Linked DNA regions of Homo sapiens: region 2 is linked to region 1. Evidence: fine-mapped expression QTL. Tissue or cell type: whole blood. Region 1 holds a variant in brackets; the other region holds the start of a gene. All regions are shown on one strand. Distances are between the middles of the regions.

The links. PIP is the estimated chance that this variant, and not a neighbour inherited with it, causes the effect.
Region 2: it holds the start of CLIC4, and the variant in region 1 is fine-mapped to the expression of CLIC4 in whole blood (INTERVAL, PIP 0.92).

The regions. Positions count from the first base shown.
Region 1 is chr1:24,716,691-24,724,866 of GRCh38, forward strand. No RefSeq gene overlaps it. Among named protein-coding and RNA genes, the nearest start is that of CLIC4, 25 kb to the right of the region's middle. RefSeq lists enhancers at 3,428-3,722, 7,430-8,176. The variant C/T (reference allele first, on the strand shown) is at 4,278.
Region 2 is chr1:24,741,288-24,749,463 of GRCh38, forward strand. It overlaps CLIC4 (chloride intracellular channel 4), which reads left to right and starts at 4,160. Exons shown (of 6, transcript NM_013943.3): 1 at 4,160-4,338. The coding sequence starts at 4,267. RefSeq lists enhancers at 1,651-2,256, 3,469-4,074, 4,075-4,680 and silencers at 3,762-4,471, 4,572-4,731.

The sequences.
Region 1 (8,176 bases):
GATTCACTTTTCCTGTTTTGAACTTGCTCAGCTTTTTTTTTTTTGAGACAGAGTCTTGCTCTGTCGCCCAGGTTGGAGTGCAGTGGCGCAATCTCAGCTCACTACAACCTCCGCTTCCCGGGTTCAAGTGATTTTCCTGCCTCAGCCTCCCAAGTAGCTGGGACTACAGGCATGCACCACCATGCCCGGCTAATTTTTGTATTTTTGGTAGAGATGGGGTTTCACCATGCTGGTGAGGGTGGTCTCAAACTTGAATCACTCAGGTGATCCACTCGCCTCGGCCTCCCAAAGCGCTAGGATTACAGGCGTGAGCCACCGTGCCAGGCCTTGCTCAGTTCTTAAAGGTCCAGTTCAAATGCCAGTTCCTCCATGGAGCCTTCCTCAACTGCTTCCCAGGGAGAATTTACTATTTGCACCTGTCTTCAGCACTATAGAGCCATTATTTCACTGTATCATAGTGATTCACTTGCCCATCCATCTCCCCCACTGGATTGTTGAGCTTCATGAACTGTGTGTGCTTTCTTTCTCCTTTCTCAATACCTAGTACCTGACCTGGCACAGAGTAGGCGCTCGGAATCCTGTGTCCAGTGACTTGAATATCCATCAGACTGGATGTTAGAGCTGTGGGGATGTGGCACTCACCCTGGAACTACTACTAGTTGCTATGCAGCCCATTCCCATCTCTGTGAACAACCTGAATTGTCCACCTTCCTTCAATCTAAAAATTCTACTCATCCATCAAGGAGCTCAATGCCCTGAGTATGTGAGGAGAGGGCTGCTTTGGAGTTGGACAGACTTGAGTTCAAGTCCTGGCTCTTCCATGTGGTACTCATGTGACGTAGGCCAAGTCATATAACTTTCTTGAGCTTCAGTTTCCATAAAATGGCAAACACATGGTGCTCATTATGTGCTGTGCCCATATCCTAATACTTCTAGTTCTTTTATCCTCCCTATGAGGTGTAGGTACCAGTCTCGTCCTCTTCCCAGTGATAAAGAGACTGAGGTCCAGAGAGGTTAAGTAAGCAAGGCCATGACTAGGACAGAGCCTTGGACAGACCTAGTGGCCGGGTAGGGGATGGAACCCAGGCAGCCTCTGCTCCAAGTCAATGCTCTTACCCCTCTACTGTCCTGCCTCTTGAAAAATGAGGATAGTACTAGAACCTTCTTCTTGGGGTACTTGTGAAATTTCACCTTCACATAATGTGTGTGGAGGGTACAGTAGAGCTGAAGCCCTTGCTGTTGGCACCGCGGTGTTCTCAGCCTAGTGGAGTCTAATCTTTCCAAAGAATCCTGGACTTTAGGGTCAAGCTGGAGGGAGGGGGGAGGTGGCTAGTCTAGCACAGCATCCACTTGGCTGTGGCTGCTTGGCAGAAGGACCCTGCTCATAATGCCCATTTGTCCAGACCGTAGTTCAATGACTTCTGCATTCTCTGCACGTACACCCTAGAAGGGATGGGATGGATGGGGGATGGCACTGGCTCTAGCCTGGCCAGGGAAAGCCAGCTGGGAATTAAGAGGTCTTGGGCAGCAGGACAACCCTGTGTCGAGAAACCTCAACTCTGCCACTGCCTAGAAGTGAGACCCTGGGTAAATCACACAACCTCCCTGGGGCTCAGTTCCTTCATCTGTGAAATGCGGACCTTAATGGTACCTCCTTCATCGGGTGGTGTGAGGAAGAAGATGTATTTTGCAAGTATGTTGTGGATATTCAGTAAAAGACAGTTAATGATCAGCCTCATGCTACTGTTTGGTTAGCCAGGCTGGCTGGGGTTCAATCTTGGCTCTACCATTTCCTAGTCATGTGATCTCAACTAAGTTACTTAACTTCTTGGCTCAGTTCCTCCCTGGTAAATTGGGAACAATCAAAAAACAATAATACAATAGCAGCTATGTGCCCCTCACAAAAAAGCGATCCCCAATTTTTAGTGATCCCAAGCAGCTCCCTGCCCCTCCCCAAGGCGTCAGTTTCCCTATTTGTTCAGGGAATTTTTTTTTTTCTTCTTGAGACGGAGTTTCACTCTGTTGCCCAGGCTGGAGTGCAGTGGCATGATCTCAGCTCACTGTAACCTCCGCTTCCCAGGTTCAAGCGATTCTCATGCCTCAGCCTCCCAAGTAGCTGAGATTACAGGTGTGCGCCACCACACCTGGCTACTTTTTGTATTTTTAGCAGAGATGGGGTTTCAGCATGTTGGCCAGGCTGGTCTTGAACTCCTCACCTCAAGTGATCTGCCTACCTCGACTTCCTAAAGTGCTGGGATTACAGGCGTGAGCCACCGTGCCTGGCCGGAACTTTTTTTAAAATAGAGACAGGGTTGGGCTCTGTCACCAGGATGGAATGCAGTGGTGCAATCATAGCTCCTGGGCTCAAGGAATCTTTCCGCCTCAATCTCCTGAGTGGCTAGGACTACAGGCATGTACCACCACACCCAGCTGATTTTAATTTTTCTTGGTAGAGATAGGGGTCTCACCATGTTGCCCAGGCTGGTCTTGAACTCTTGGCCTCAAGGATATTCCTGCCTCAAGGATACTTCCACCTCAGCCTTCCAAAGCATGAGGATGACAGGCATGAGCCACTGCACCCAGCCTTGTTCATGGAAATTTCAGCTTCACCGTAAGCGCCATGCCCTAACAGATTCCCAGGCTCCGCTTCATGTACTGAATTGGTCCCCCTGCGGGAGATGCCCGATGCCCTTTCTTGGGGCAGCTGCTGTGTCCACCTTGTTCACTGTGTCCCCAGCACCTGACCTGGGCCTGCACATGGTGGGCCCTTAGCAAATGTTTATTGAATTTATGTTTTTCATGTAACAAACATGAACTTAGTGCTTCTCATGTGCTAGGCACTCCTTTGCGTGCTTTACAGATATAAATGCATTTATTCTTTGGCAATCTTTTTTTTTTGAGACGGAGTTTCGCTCTTGTTGCCCAGGCTGGAGTGCAATGGCACAATCTCGGCTCACTGCAACCTCCTCCTCCTGGCTTCAAGCAATTCTTCTGCCTTAGCCTCCCGAGTAGCTGGGATTACAGGCATGTGCCTCCACGCCTGGCTAATTTTGTATTTTTAGTAGAGACGGGGTTTTTCCATGTTGGTCAGGCTGGTCTCAAACTCCCGACCTCAGGTGATCCGCCCGCCTTGACCTCCCAAAGTGCTGAGATTACAGGCGTGAGCCACCACCCCCGGCCTTACTCTTCAGCAATCTTGTAGAGAATGACTATTATTATCCCCATCGTTATTTTACAGATGAGGCAGTTGAGGCAGAGTTAAAGTAACATGCCTAGGATTCTAACCCAAGACCTCTGGCTTCAGGGTTCATCCTCTGGCCTTCTCTGACCCTGTCCCCTCTATTCAGGAGTTGGGGTACCCTGAGTACCCACACATCCACTGGTATCCATGGCTCATCTCTTGGGATGGGGTTCTCCCATCCTCTGGGCGAGAGCAGGGGCCGGCTGTGGGATGTGGGGAACCGAGTCATGGGCCTGGCCTCCAGGAGACAGTCAGCCAACACCTGCCAGTCCGCCAAGTCCCAAAACAGCCTGGGCGCAGCTCACATCCGGCTGTTGTTCCGGAGCCAGAGAGGAGAACAGGAAAGGCCAAGAGGCCTGGCTCCAAGCTGACTCATTGGGAGGTGGGACCAGGACAGGAAGGGCAAGGGGTCGCCAACTCCATCCTCCCTCCCTTGGACACTCACTGGAATAAGGCCGGGCCCTGGAGCCACAGGCCAGAATCCACCCACCATGGAGCTTCAGGGACCTCACAGACTCCCAGGGAGGAAACACATGTGAGTTTAAAAACCAAGCCAGGCCGGGCGCGGCGGCTCACGCCTGTAATCCCAGCACTTTGGGAGGCCCAAGGCAGGTGGATCATGAGGTCAGGAGATTGAGACCAGCCTGGCCAACCTGGTGAAACCCCACCTCTACTAAAAATACAAAAATTATCTGGGCGTGGTGGCGCGTGCCTGTAATCCCAGCTACTCGGGAGGCTGAGGTAGGAGAATCACTTGAACCAGGGAGTCAGAGGTTGCGGTGAGCGGAGATAGCACCACTGTGCTCCAGCCTGGGGGACAGAGCGACACTCCGTCTCAGAAAACAAACAAACACACAAAACCAGGCCATAGCATTTGGCTGGAGAGATGAAGGTTCTGCATGGCCAAATACTTTGATGACTTTCTTGGGTGCGAAAGGCACTGCCCTCTTCCTGGCCGTGGCCTGGAGGACAGGAGAGAGGGCTCTGGGTAAGGAAATGGGGCAGGAGGGCAGAAGGCTTGAGACCTGAAAGGCAG[C/T]GGGAAGGATGAATGTAGAGAAATCTCAGAGCCTGAAGAAAGAAGCCACCTGCCAAGAGTCCATGGGGAAGGCTGGCCCAAGAGAAGTCTCTGGAAAGGTTTGCTAGACTCTTTTTTTTTGAGACGGAGTTTTGCTCTTGTTGCCCAGGCTGGAGTGCAATGGCGCCATATCAGCTCACCACAACCTCCGCCTCCCACGTTCAAGCGATTCTCCTGCCTCAGCCTCCCGAGTAGCTGGGATTATAGGCACCGGCCACCATGCCTGGCTAATTTTGTATTTTTAGTAGAGACAGGGTTTCTCCATGTTGATCAGGCTGGTCTTGAACTCCTGACCTCAGGTGATCCACCCGCCTCGGCCTCCCAAAGTGCTGGGATTGAGAGGTGACAGTGTGCTGGCAGCCCTCCCAGCCCTCACTGGCTCTTGGCGCCTCCTCGGCCTTGACGCCCACTCTGGCCATGCTTGAGGAGCCCTTCAACCCGCCGCTGTACTGTGGGAGCCCCTTTCTGGGCTGGCCAAGCCCAGAGCCGGCTCCCTCAGCTTGCGGGGAGGTGTGGAGGGAGAGGCGCGGGTGGGAACCCGGGCTGCGTGCAGTGCTTGCGGCCAGCGCGAGTTCCGGGTGGGCGTGGGCTCGGCGGGCCCCGCACTGGGAGCCTCCGGCCGGCCCCACCGGCCCTGGGCAATGAGGGGCTTAGCACCTGGGCCAGCAGCTGCTGTGCTCGACTTCTCGCTGGGCCTTAGCTGCCTCCCCACGCCGCAGGGCTCGGGACCTGCAGCCCACCATGCCTGAGCCTCCCCCGACCCCCGTGGGCTCCTGTGCGGCCCGAGCCTCCCTGACGAGCTCCGCCCCCTGCTCCACAGCGCCCAGTCCCATCGACCACCGGAGGGCTGAGGAGTGTGGGCACACGGCACGGGACCGGCAGGCAGCTCCACCTGTGGCCCTGGTACAGGATCCACTGGGTGAAGCCCGCTGGGCTCCTGAGTCTGGTGGGGACTTGGAGAACATTTATGTCTAGCTAAGGGATTGTAAATACACCAATGGACACTCTGTATCTAGCTCAAGGTTTGTAAACACACCAATCAGAACCGTGTGTCTAGCTCAGGGTTTGTGAATGCACCAATGGACACTCTGTATCTAGCTACTCTGGTGGGGACTTGGAGAACCTTTGTGTTGACACTTTATATCTAGCTAATATAGCTGGGACATGGAGAACTTTTGTGTCTAGCTCAGGGATTGTAAACGCACCAATCAGCTCTCTGTAAAATGGACCAATCGGCTCTCTGTAAAATGGACCAATCAGCAGGATGTGGGTGGGGCCAGGTAAGAATAAATGCAGGCTGCCTGAGGTAGCAGTAGTAACCCGCTGGAGTTCCCTTCCACACTGTGGAGACTTTGTTTTTTCACTCTTTGCAATAAATCTTGCTACTGCTCACTCTTTGGGTCCACACTGCCTTTATGAGTTGTAACACTCACCATGAAGGTCTGTGACTTCACTGCTGAAGCCAGCGAGATCCCAAACCCACCGGGAGGAAAGAACAACTCCAGATGCACCACCTTAAGAGCCCTAAGAGCTGTAACACTCACCGTGAAGGTCTGCAGCTTCACTCCTGAGCCAGTGAGACCGTGCACCCACCAGAAGGAAGAAACTCCGAACACATCTGAACATCAAAAGGAACAAACTCCAGACACGCCGCCTTTGAGAACTGTAACACTCACCGCGAGGGTCCGTGGTTTTATTCTTGAAGTCAGTGAGACCAAGAACCCACCAATTCTGGACACAGGATTACAGGCGTGAGCCACCGCACCCGGCCCTTTTTTTTTTTTTTTGAGATGGAGTTTCGCTTTTGTTGCCCAGGCTGGAATGCAGTGGCATGATAGCTCACCACAATCTCCGCCTCCTAGGTTCAAGTAATTCTACATCATTCTCTCTAGTAGCTGGGATTACAGGCATGTGCCATCACGCCCTGCTAATTTTGTATTTTTAATACAGATGGGGTTTCTCCATGTGGGTCAGTCTGGTCTTGAACTCCGGACCTCAGGTGATCCACCCGCCTTGACCTCCCAAAATGCTGGGATTACAGGCATGAGTCACTGCACCCAGCTATACAGCTTATTTTGAGACAGTCTCACTCTGTCACCCAGGCTGCAGTGCAGTGAGTGTTAATCTATGCACATAAAGCTCTCAGAATAGTGCCTGACAGACGTTAAGCACTCAATTTTTTATTTTTATTTATTTTTTTTTTTTTTGAGGCAGGGTCTCACTCCCATCACCCAGGCTGGAGTGCAGTGGCATGATCTCGGCTCACTACAGCCTCAACCTCCCAGCACAAGCAATCTGCCTACCTCAGCCCCACAAGTAGCTGAGACTATGGATGTGCGCCACCATGCCCAGCTAATTTTTGTATTTTTTGTAGAGATGGGGTTTCACCATGTTGCCCAGGTTGGTCTCGACCTCTTCAGTTCAAGTGATTCACCTGCCTTGGCCTCCCAAAGTGCTGGGATTAGAGGCGTGAGCCACTGCACAGGGCCAAGTGCTCAATAAATTAAATGTGAGTTTGTGCAAGGTGATTACGTGTGAACACTCGACTCAATTGGCTTAAACATAAAATTTATTTTTAATTAATTTATGATGGAGTTTCACTCTTGTCGCCCAGGCTGGAGTGCACTGGCATGATCTCAGCTCACTGCAACCTCCGCCTCCTGGGTTCAAGCAATTCTCCTGCCTCAGCCTCCCGAGTAGCTGGGATTACAGGTGCGCACCACCATGCCCGGCTAATAATTGATTTCTTTTTTTAAATGGAGTCTTGTTCCAGCCCAGGCTGGAGTGCAGTGGTGCGATCTCGGCTGACTGCAACCTCTGCCTCCTGGGTTCAAGAGATTCTCCTGCTTCAGCCTCCTGAGTAGTTGGGATTACAGGCGCACACCACCACACCCAGCTAATTTTTGTATTTTTTAGTAGAGACGGGGTTTCATCATGTTGGTCAGGCTGGTCTCGAACTCCTGACCTCGTGATCTGCCGCCTCGGCCTCCCAAAGTTCTGGGATTACAGGCGTGAGCCAGTGTGCCCAGCCTATTTATTATTTTTATTATTATTTTTTGAGATGGAGTCTCACTCTGTTGCCCAGGCTGGAGTGCAGTGGTGGATCTTGGCTCACTGCAACCTCCACCTCCTGGGTGTAAGAGATTTTCATGTCTCAGCCTCCCAAATAGTTGGGACTACAGACGTGTGCCACCTCACCCAGCTAATTTTTGTATTTTTGGTAGAGACAGGGTTTTGCCATGTTGGCCAGGCTGATTTCCAACTCCTGACCTCAAGTGATCCGCCCGCCTCGGCCTCTGAAAATGCTGGGATTACAGGCATGAGCCACTGTGCCCCGCGGAAAGAAATCTATTATTTTACCAACAGGAAGTCCCAGGAGATTCTTGGCCTTGGAATGGATTGATTCGCTGGTTCAGTGATGGCACAGGGACCCAGGAACTTTGTCTCCGCTGCTGCCTCCCTTTAGGTTGGCTTCAGCTCAAGGGCAACTACCCTTTTGGTAACAAGACGGTTGCCAGCAACACCTAAGGGACGAGGTATCCTGGTCTTCCTTAGCAAGGAGAAGGCCGGCTCCCTTAGCAAGGAGAAGGCCGGCTCCCTAAGCCAGACATTTAAATCCTTCCCTTCAGTCTGATTGGGTGAGCTGGGTCATGTGGTCACCTCTGTACCAACCACAGCACCAAGACAATGCAAGGAGCTGATTGGCTTACATTCCTCGGGATTCACCCCTGGAGCTGAGACGGGTGGCCACTGAGGGCTGGGGGAAAGGCAGAGGTGGGTTCCGTTGGGACAGCTTGGGTGGGGGCTATGGGAGCAGCTTTAAAGAACTAGTTACCCCTGTTGGCTGGGGGCCTGGGGGG
Region 2 (8,176 bases), 25 kb after region 1:
ATCCTGAGTTAGTAAATAACAGAAGCAGGATTGGAACCCAGGCAGTCTGGCCCCAGAGTCCATGTGCATAGCAGCTCATTCTGCTGCTGAAATTGCAGAACTTTGGGCTGAGACAGTCAGCGAGCAGCACCACAGAGTTAGAAGTGGGAGGAGGAAAGTGTCATCAAGGGAGGCTTACTGGAGGAAAACCTGACCCCCTGTGTAGGGGCAGTCATAAACACAAACCACCTGGCTTCCCAGACTGGAAGAGCGTGACAATCCAAATGTCATGTCAGGGGTACATGAAACCATAGGATAAACATGGTACAGTCACTCACTCCATAAGCTATTTTTTTTTTTTTTTGAGACAGAGTTTCGCTCTTGTTGTCCAGGCTGGAGTGCAATGGCGCAATCTCGGCTTACTGCAACCTCTGCCTCCCAGGTTCAAGCGATTCTCCTGCCTCAGCCTCCCAAGTAGCTGGGATTGCAGGCATGCACCACCATGCCTGGCTAATTTTTTGTATTTTTAGTGGAGACGGGGTTTCTCCATGTTGGTCAGGCTGGTCTCGAACTCCCGACCTCAGGTGATCCATCCGCCTTGGCCTCCCAAAATCCTGGGATTATAGGCGTGAGCCACTGCGCCCGGCCCACTCCATAAATTTTTATTGTGTACCATGAGCTGTCCTCTGAGCCAGGAATATAGCCATAAACAAAACCAAACAAAAAATCCCTGCCCTTATGGCATTTATGTTCTAGTGGGAGAAGACAGACAATAAGCAGATAAATAGGTAGATATGTATCAGAGGGTTGTAAGTGTTATGAAGAGAGATAAAGTGGAGGGTGGAGTGAAAGATAGCAACTTGCAACGTTGCATAGGGTGGTATTTGGGGAGAGCGCTCTGAGAAGATGACATTTGAGCAAAGAGCCAAAGGAAGTAAGGGAGTGGGAGTTGCAGAAATTCTGGGGGAAGAATGTTCCAGAGAGGGGGAAGAGCAAATGCAAAGGCCCTGAGGCCACAGTGTGCTTCGCATATCCAAGGACTAGAAAGGAGGCCAGTGAAGCTGGGGTGGAGAGCACAGGGGAGAATGGTAGGAGATGAGGTCAGAGGGGTGTGTGTGGGAGGAGACAACATGTCTCCACCCATCTTAAAGATTTCTGTGTGCTATAAAAACAAGCCTGAGTAAAGAATGTAAAGCAGGCATGCAATTCAAAATTCGAAGAGGAGACTTGACTGCTATGTGGTTAGGGGGCCTCCCCTGCATAAACATCCTCTTTCCCTTTCACCCACTCCCAGGACTGACTGCCCATCCATGGGAGCCATATGAGGGCGGAACTTGGGAAACTGTAGGTGTGACTGAGACTACGTCTAAGCACAGGCTCTGGGTCTGAGCCTCTTCCTGGGGGGCTTCCTGTTGGGTAGGAGGAGCCCAGGAGATCATCACCACCTCAGGGCTCTGTGGAGAATGCCCCTGGCTTCCTCCTAGCTAAGATCTCTGTTTAGTCAATGAAGCCTAAAGGGCCCTGGTCTGTTCCTCCTTCCATACCCTGGTGCTGTGAGGCCAGTTGGAGCCTGTGAAGGGCAAGTCACCACCGGGAATATTTGCTGCCTCTAACTCAAATTCTTTTTTTTTGAGATGGATTTCGCTCTGTCGCCCAGGCTGGAGTACAGTGGCGTGATCTCGGCTCACAGCCACCTTTGCCTCCCCGGTTCAAGCGATTCTCCTGCCTCAGCCTCCCGAGTAGCTAGGATTACAGGCATGTGCCACCACACCCGGCTAATTTTTGTATTTTTAGTAAAGATGGGGTTTCGCCATGCTGGCCAGGCTGGTCTCGAACTCCTGACCTCAGGTGATCCACTCGCCTCGGTCTCCCAACGTGTTGGGATTACAGGCATGAGCCACTGTGCCCGGCCTCAATTTGATCAATTCTCAGGTACATTGAGTTTCTGCTGAATTGTTTTTTGGCTTAGATCTGCTTTGAACTGATTCACCATTTGGTTCCTTTTTGGTAGGGCAGAGAGGGTGGATTCTGGAAGGAAACTTTGCTTCAGTTCATGATTCTATGAAAAATTAACACGGTTCAGTCCAGAGTCTAGTCAGTCACTTCAGGATTTTCATGGTTCAAGCCCCCATCTAAGGGGAGCCTCCTGGAATTTATTTATTTATTTTCAACGAACTAGCCGGGCATAGAGAGAGTAGAATATGATGCCACATTCTAGCCTGCAGGGGTGGTAGGGACAGAATAAGTCTCAATGCAGTTAACAGCCATACTGACGGAGCAGCACATATGGTAAGGCAAGAATCAGTAATTAGCCCCACCCACTTCTAGATAATGAAACTGAGGCTTAGGGGTTTTAAGGACACTGCCTTGTCAGATTTGAACTTAAACAGTCAGACTACAGAGCACGTGTTCCTGACCACTGGGATACACTGGCTCTTTCACAGAGCCTCTGTGAGAAAATTTGAGCAACTTACTTTGGGCTGGCAGAGGAAGAAATTGCAAGTTTCACTGTATTTTCATGCCTACGTACAATTTGTTCAAACATTCTGGTATGTGCTAGGCACCGAGGATATGGAGACAAACCTCCCATGTCTGGGCCTCCTGGAACTCACTATTTATCCCAACCTGGGAAGTTGGGAGGAGTAGCTGTGAGTCAAGTATTATGGAAAGTCAGAAAAGGGCACAAGTAATTGTTTCCAGAGGAGGTGAAACTTGCCCCAGGCACTCAACAGCAGCAAACTAGGACCAGGTGCCTACAATCTCAAGGCAAGCACAGCTCTTGCCCTCGGGGGCTTAAATCCCAGGGCAGTTTAACTGGTTTGCGGACCACCTACTTCAGAATTGTCCTGGTGCTTGCTAAGATGTGGATTTCTCTTTTTCCCAGAGGATCTGGGAAACACAAAAAGCGGGGCTGCGTGTAGCACCTAGGTGATTCTGATGCACACTCAAATTTGACAGGTGAGCCGGGGGGAAGAAATGGGTGTGGGCAGTGGGGAACAAGATGGACAACGACTTGGAAGTCCTTAGTGGCCTGCAGGCACTGAGATTGCAGTTCAAGATCTTGAGCTTTGGGAGTTGTTACTCTCCAAGGGCTAGCTCAGAGCCTGAAACACAGTAAGGTTTCATAAATATTTGTGAATATGCGCCCGGCGCGGTGGCTCACGCCTGTAATCCCAGCACTTTGGGAGGCCGAGGCGGGCGGATCACGAGGTCAGGAGATCGAGACCATCCTGACTAACACGGTGAAACCCCGTCTCTACTAAAAATACAAAAATTAGCCGGGCGCGGTGGCGGGTGCCTGTAGTCCCAGCTACTTGGGAGGCTGAGGCAGGAGAATGGCGTGAACCCGGGGCAGAGTTTGCAGTGAGCCGAGATCGCGCCACTGCACTCCAGCCTAGGCGATAGAGCCAGACTCCGTCTCAAAAAAAAAAAAAAAAAAAATATATATATATATATATATATTTGTGAATATGCTGGCTGCCAAGATCGAAACGATCAGGAGCGTCAAAGGGAAAAACGAAGTCAGAGGCAGAAGAAAAAGGTGTTCCCCAGGCGATGAAAACTTTCCAGTAAGTTGTCTTGGAAAAGGCAACTCCGCGTAATAGAGGGACTTGGGGAGGTAGCCGCTGCGGGAAAGGGCGATGAGTCCTGGGGTGCTGCAGCGGGGGAGTGGGTAGGAGGCGCCTCCTAGCTTCCCCAGGGCGGCCGAGGCATGAGGTCACCTGGCACAGCAACAGCAGCAGCTGCGGAGGACGCGCAGGCGCTGCGGCGGGAGGCAGTGTCAGGCTCGGGCCCCTGGGGAATTCCTCCCCTCCTTTCCCCCCCGCACCAGTCCCCTAGAGAGGCGTACCCGGGTCCCGCCCGCCAGAGCCTGAGCTTTGTACCGCCCACCAAGGCCACGCCCCCTACCAGCTGTGGGGCGCCGCAGAGGTCCTTTCTTCGGCTCCGGAGCGGTCCCTCCGCCTTCCCCGCTCGAGGCCACGCCCCCGTGCTCCTGCCGCCTTATTTTCCCCGGAGAGTCCCGAGGCGCCGCGCCTTGGCCCTGCCTACAGCCCGAGGCCCCGCCCCCGGCGCCCCTCCCAGCCGTTTGAAGCGGCTCGGGCTGCGGCTGGCTCAGAGTGGCGCGGGGGGCGTGGGGCGGTGCTGAGGAGCTGAAGCCGTGGCCAGCTCGACGCCGGACAGTCCAGCGAGCAGCACGGCGGGAACCGGCAGCCGGAGCAGTCCCGGAGCAGAAGCAGCAGCAGCAGCAGCAGCCCTCGCCGTTCGCGGAGCGCAGCCGAGCCGGCCATGGCGTTGTCGATGCCGCTGAATGGGCTGAAGGAGGAGGACAAAGAGCCCCTCATCGAGCTCTTCGTCAAGGTGAGCGCTCGCCTCGCGGTCCCGCCCGGCAGATCCCCCGGCTCCCTCCCGGCTGCGGGGAGCGGCGTCCCGGGGCTCTCCTGAGGCGCCCCCGCTCGGCGCCAGCACCCGTCCCGCTGCGGGCACCCGCGCCCCCGGCCCATTGTCTGGGGGCCGCCCGCGCCTTCCCGCCTCCGAGGGCCCGTCGAGGGGTCCGGGTTGGGGACCCGGGCGGCGGCCACCGTCTCCAGCGCGTAGGCATCGGCGGACGCCAGACCAGCGTCCCGCGCCCGGGTGGGTCGGGAAGAGCCCACGGGCGGGACTTGCCTGCCCCGGGGCCCCAGCGCCGGGCGCGCGCGGGTCCTGTCACCACCCCCCGCCCGGGCGCCGGGGCCCGGCCCCACCCGCTCCCCAGCGCTCCGGTCCGCCGCCCGGAGCCCGAACTGCGGCCCGCCGCCCGATGAGCTTTCAAACGAACTTCTTTGAACGCGTTTTTGAAAAAGCATTTGCTCCCCACTGGTCTGAAACGGAAACTTTAATTTTCGATGCAATCTTAAACAAATTTACCAAAGAGCAGGTGCTCTTGGACCTTCGGAAAAGACCGAGATTCCCAACTTGTGTTTTTCTGTCTTGGGCATTTACTGGCTTTCTCGTTTCTCAAGCGCGGAGTGTTCTGTATGATGCAACATTTTGGCTTCTCCCCCCGGCGTTGCTGCTTCGGGAAGGATTGTGTGTGCCCTTTTGTTTTGAAAGAAATTGAGGGAGAGAATTCTTAACTTGCTTGGGCTTTAAAGGGTTGGTTTTCCCTTGTGTCTTCAGCTTTCATGTGTGGAATTTATTTGCTTACACATACTACCCCTCTTCCTTTGCTTTTCTCTTTAATACTTTTTATTTTAGCAAAGGAGAGAGTCGAAGTTATAAACATCTGGATCCAGCTCCTTCCCTCAAAACTTAAAAAAAACACTTTGAGCTTCTTCCAGCCACTTAAAAAGCCAGGCTCATTCAGAGCTAGGCAACATACCGGAAAGTAAATGGTCATCTAGAACTATTGGGTTCTTTTTTTTCCCCGAGTTTTTACTTTAAAGAAAGGACATTTCAGGATGTGTTTAAGAGATAGAGAAGGGCTGGGCGCGGTGGCTCATGCCTGTAATCGCAGCACTTTCGGAGGCCGAGGTGGGAGGATTACTTGAGTCCAGCCTGAACAAGATGGCGAAACCCTGTCTCTACAAAAAAATTCAAAAATTAGCTGGGAGCGATGTTACGCGCCTGTACTACTCTGGAGGCTGCGGTGGGAGAACTGCTTGAGCCCGGGAGGTCGAGGCTGCAGTGAGCCACGTCGCACCACTGCATTCCAGCCTGGGCGACAGAGCAAGACCCTGTCTCAAACAAAAGAGATGGAGAGAAGAAATAATCTGCATTTACCTCTGCAGTCTTCAGTAATGACTGGAACAGTGTTTGCCTTAGGATTTTCTTTCAATTGTCAATTTTCGATTTTTTTTTTTTTTTTTTTTTTGGTCCAGGGAACTGAAACAGCAGACAGGTATAGAACCCCCAAAATATCAAAGCGTTTCGGTTACTTTGAGTGGCAGATATAGTACTTTGAGATGCGTAGAATGTAGGAAGGAACCTGAAATACAAGAAAGGAAGGAGGCCGGGCGCGGTGGCTCACGCCTGTAATCCCAGCACTTTGGGAGGCTGAGGTGGGCAGATCACGAGGTCAGGAGATCGAGACCATCCTGGCCAACATGGTGAAACCCCATCTCTACTAAAAATACAAAAATTAGCTGGGCGTGGTGGCGCGTGCCTGTAGTCCCAGCTACTCGGGAGGCTGAGGCAGGAGAATTGCTTGAACCCGGGAGGCAGAGGTTGTGGTGTGCGGAGATTGCGCCACTGTACTCCAGCCTGGGCAACAGAGTAAGACTCCATCTCAAAAAAAAAAAAAAAAAAGAAAGAAAGGAAGGGTGGTGGGTGGAAAACAGCATGGAGAAGGGAAACAAGTGGGCCAGAGATGAGTTAAAAAAAATTTTTACTGAGTGAGGAATAGGAAGGAATTTCCATAAACTCAAAAAAAGTGCATCCATGAATAATCTGTAAAACATGATACTTAACGGTGAAACTTTAGAACAGTATTAAACTTAGAATAAGCTACTATCGGGCCGGGTGAGGTGACTCACACCTGTAGCATTTTGGGATGCCGAGATGGGGAGATCACTTGAGGCCAGGAGTTCGAGACCAGCCTGGCCAACATGGTGAAACCCTGTCTCTACTAAAAATAGAAAAATTAGCCAGGCATGGTGGTGGGCCCAGCTATTCGGGAGGCTGAGGCATGAGAATCGCTTGAACCGGGGAGGCAAAGGTTGGAGTGAGCCAAGATCAAGTCACTGCACTCCAGCCTGGGCGACAGAGTGAGACTTCGTCTCAAAAAAAAAAAAAAAAAGATAAAGCTATTATCAGTTATGGCTCTATTCAGTATTCTATTATTCTATTGGAGGAGCTAATCAAAGAAGACAAGAAAAATTAAGTATCTGAATTAGGAAGAGATCAGTGATTAATGCCCTGCTTACTATTAATTTCATCTTTCAGTTAGAATAGCAGAGGGGCGTGTGCAGTTTTCCAAACTTGAGTCACTTGCATCCCCTTTCTGTTTTTCATATTTGTGTTGAGAACCACTGAAAATCATCCTTCCTACCACTAGTTGTAAGCCTTTCTCATTGGGCTTGGTGGCAGAGAATCAGGGTTCAAGTCACAGTTCTTTACTCCTTGGTTGGGTGACCCTAGGCAGTTTGTTTTCACTCTTTAAGCCTTGTTTGTCTCATTTGTGAAATAAGAAATGTTTTCTGCTACCCAGTGATTCAACATAGGCAAACTTTGCACTGATACAGATCAGGTTTTTTGTTTTTTTTTTTTTTTTTTTTTTTAATGAGATGGTGTCTCGCTCTGTCACCCTGGCTGCTGGAGTGCAGTGGCGCGATCTCGGCTCACTGCACCCTCTGCCTCCCAGGTTGAAGTGATTCTTCTGCCTTTGCCTTCCGAGGAGCGCATGCACCACTACGCCTGGCTGATTTTTGTATTTTAGAAGAGACTGGGTTTTACCATGTTGGCCAGGCTGGTCTCAAACTCCTGACCTTAAGTGATCTGCCTGCCTTGGCCTCCCAAAGTGCTGGGATTACAGGCTTGAGCCTCTGTGCTTGGCCCCTAGACCAGTTTGTTTGAAAGGGGAAAAAAGGACAGGTAAAATGTGGTAAAGGGCATTCTTGATCTCTTCTCAAAACCTACGTGTGGGAAATGCAAATGGGGGAAATACCCTTGTAAATATAGTTATTTTGAAAGCAGTGGACCAGGTGTGGTGGCACACTCCTGTAATCCCAGCCTTTTGGGAGGCGGAGGGGGGTGGATCACTTGATGTTGAGACCAGCCTGGGCAACATGGCGAAACCGCATTTCTACTAAAAATACAAAAATTAGCCACGCATAGTGGTGCATGGCTGTAATCCCAGCTACTCGGGAGACTGAGGCAGGAGAATTGCTTGAACCTGGGAGGCGGTGGTTGCAGTGAGCCGAGATAGTGCCACTGCACCCCAGCCTGGGTGACAGAGCAAGACTCCATCTCAAAAAATAAAAATTAAAAAAAAAAAAAAGAAAGTAGAGAGGGTGCAGAGGCTGTGGTTGTCCAGAGTGGTATGTTGAACAGTGTTAACCTGCCAAGAGGTATCTGAGTTTGTAAAAGAAAACTATTTACAGTTGAAGCACATAGCATGTATGGAAATTAGAAATTTGGTGGTGGCGCTAGGGGAAAGGCCAAGAGATGTAATGGGGCTTTGAGCCTACCTGTCTAGCTAGCACTGAGCTTCACATTTAAG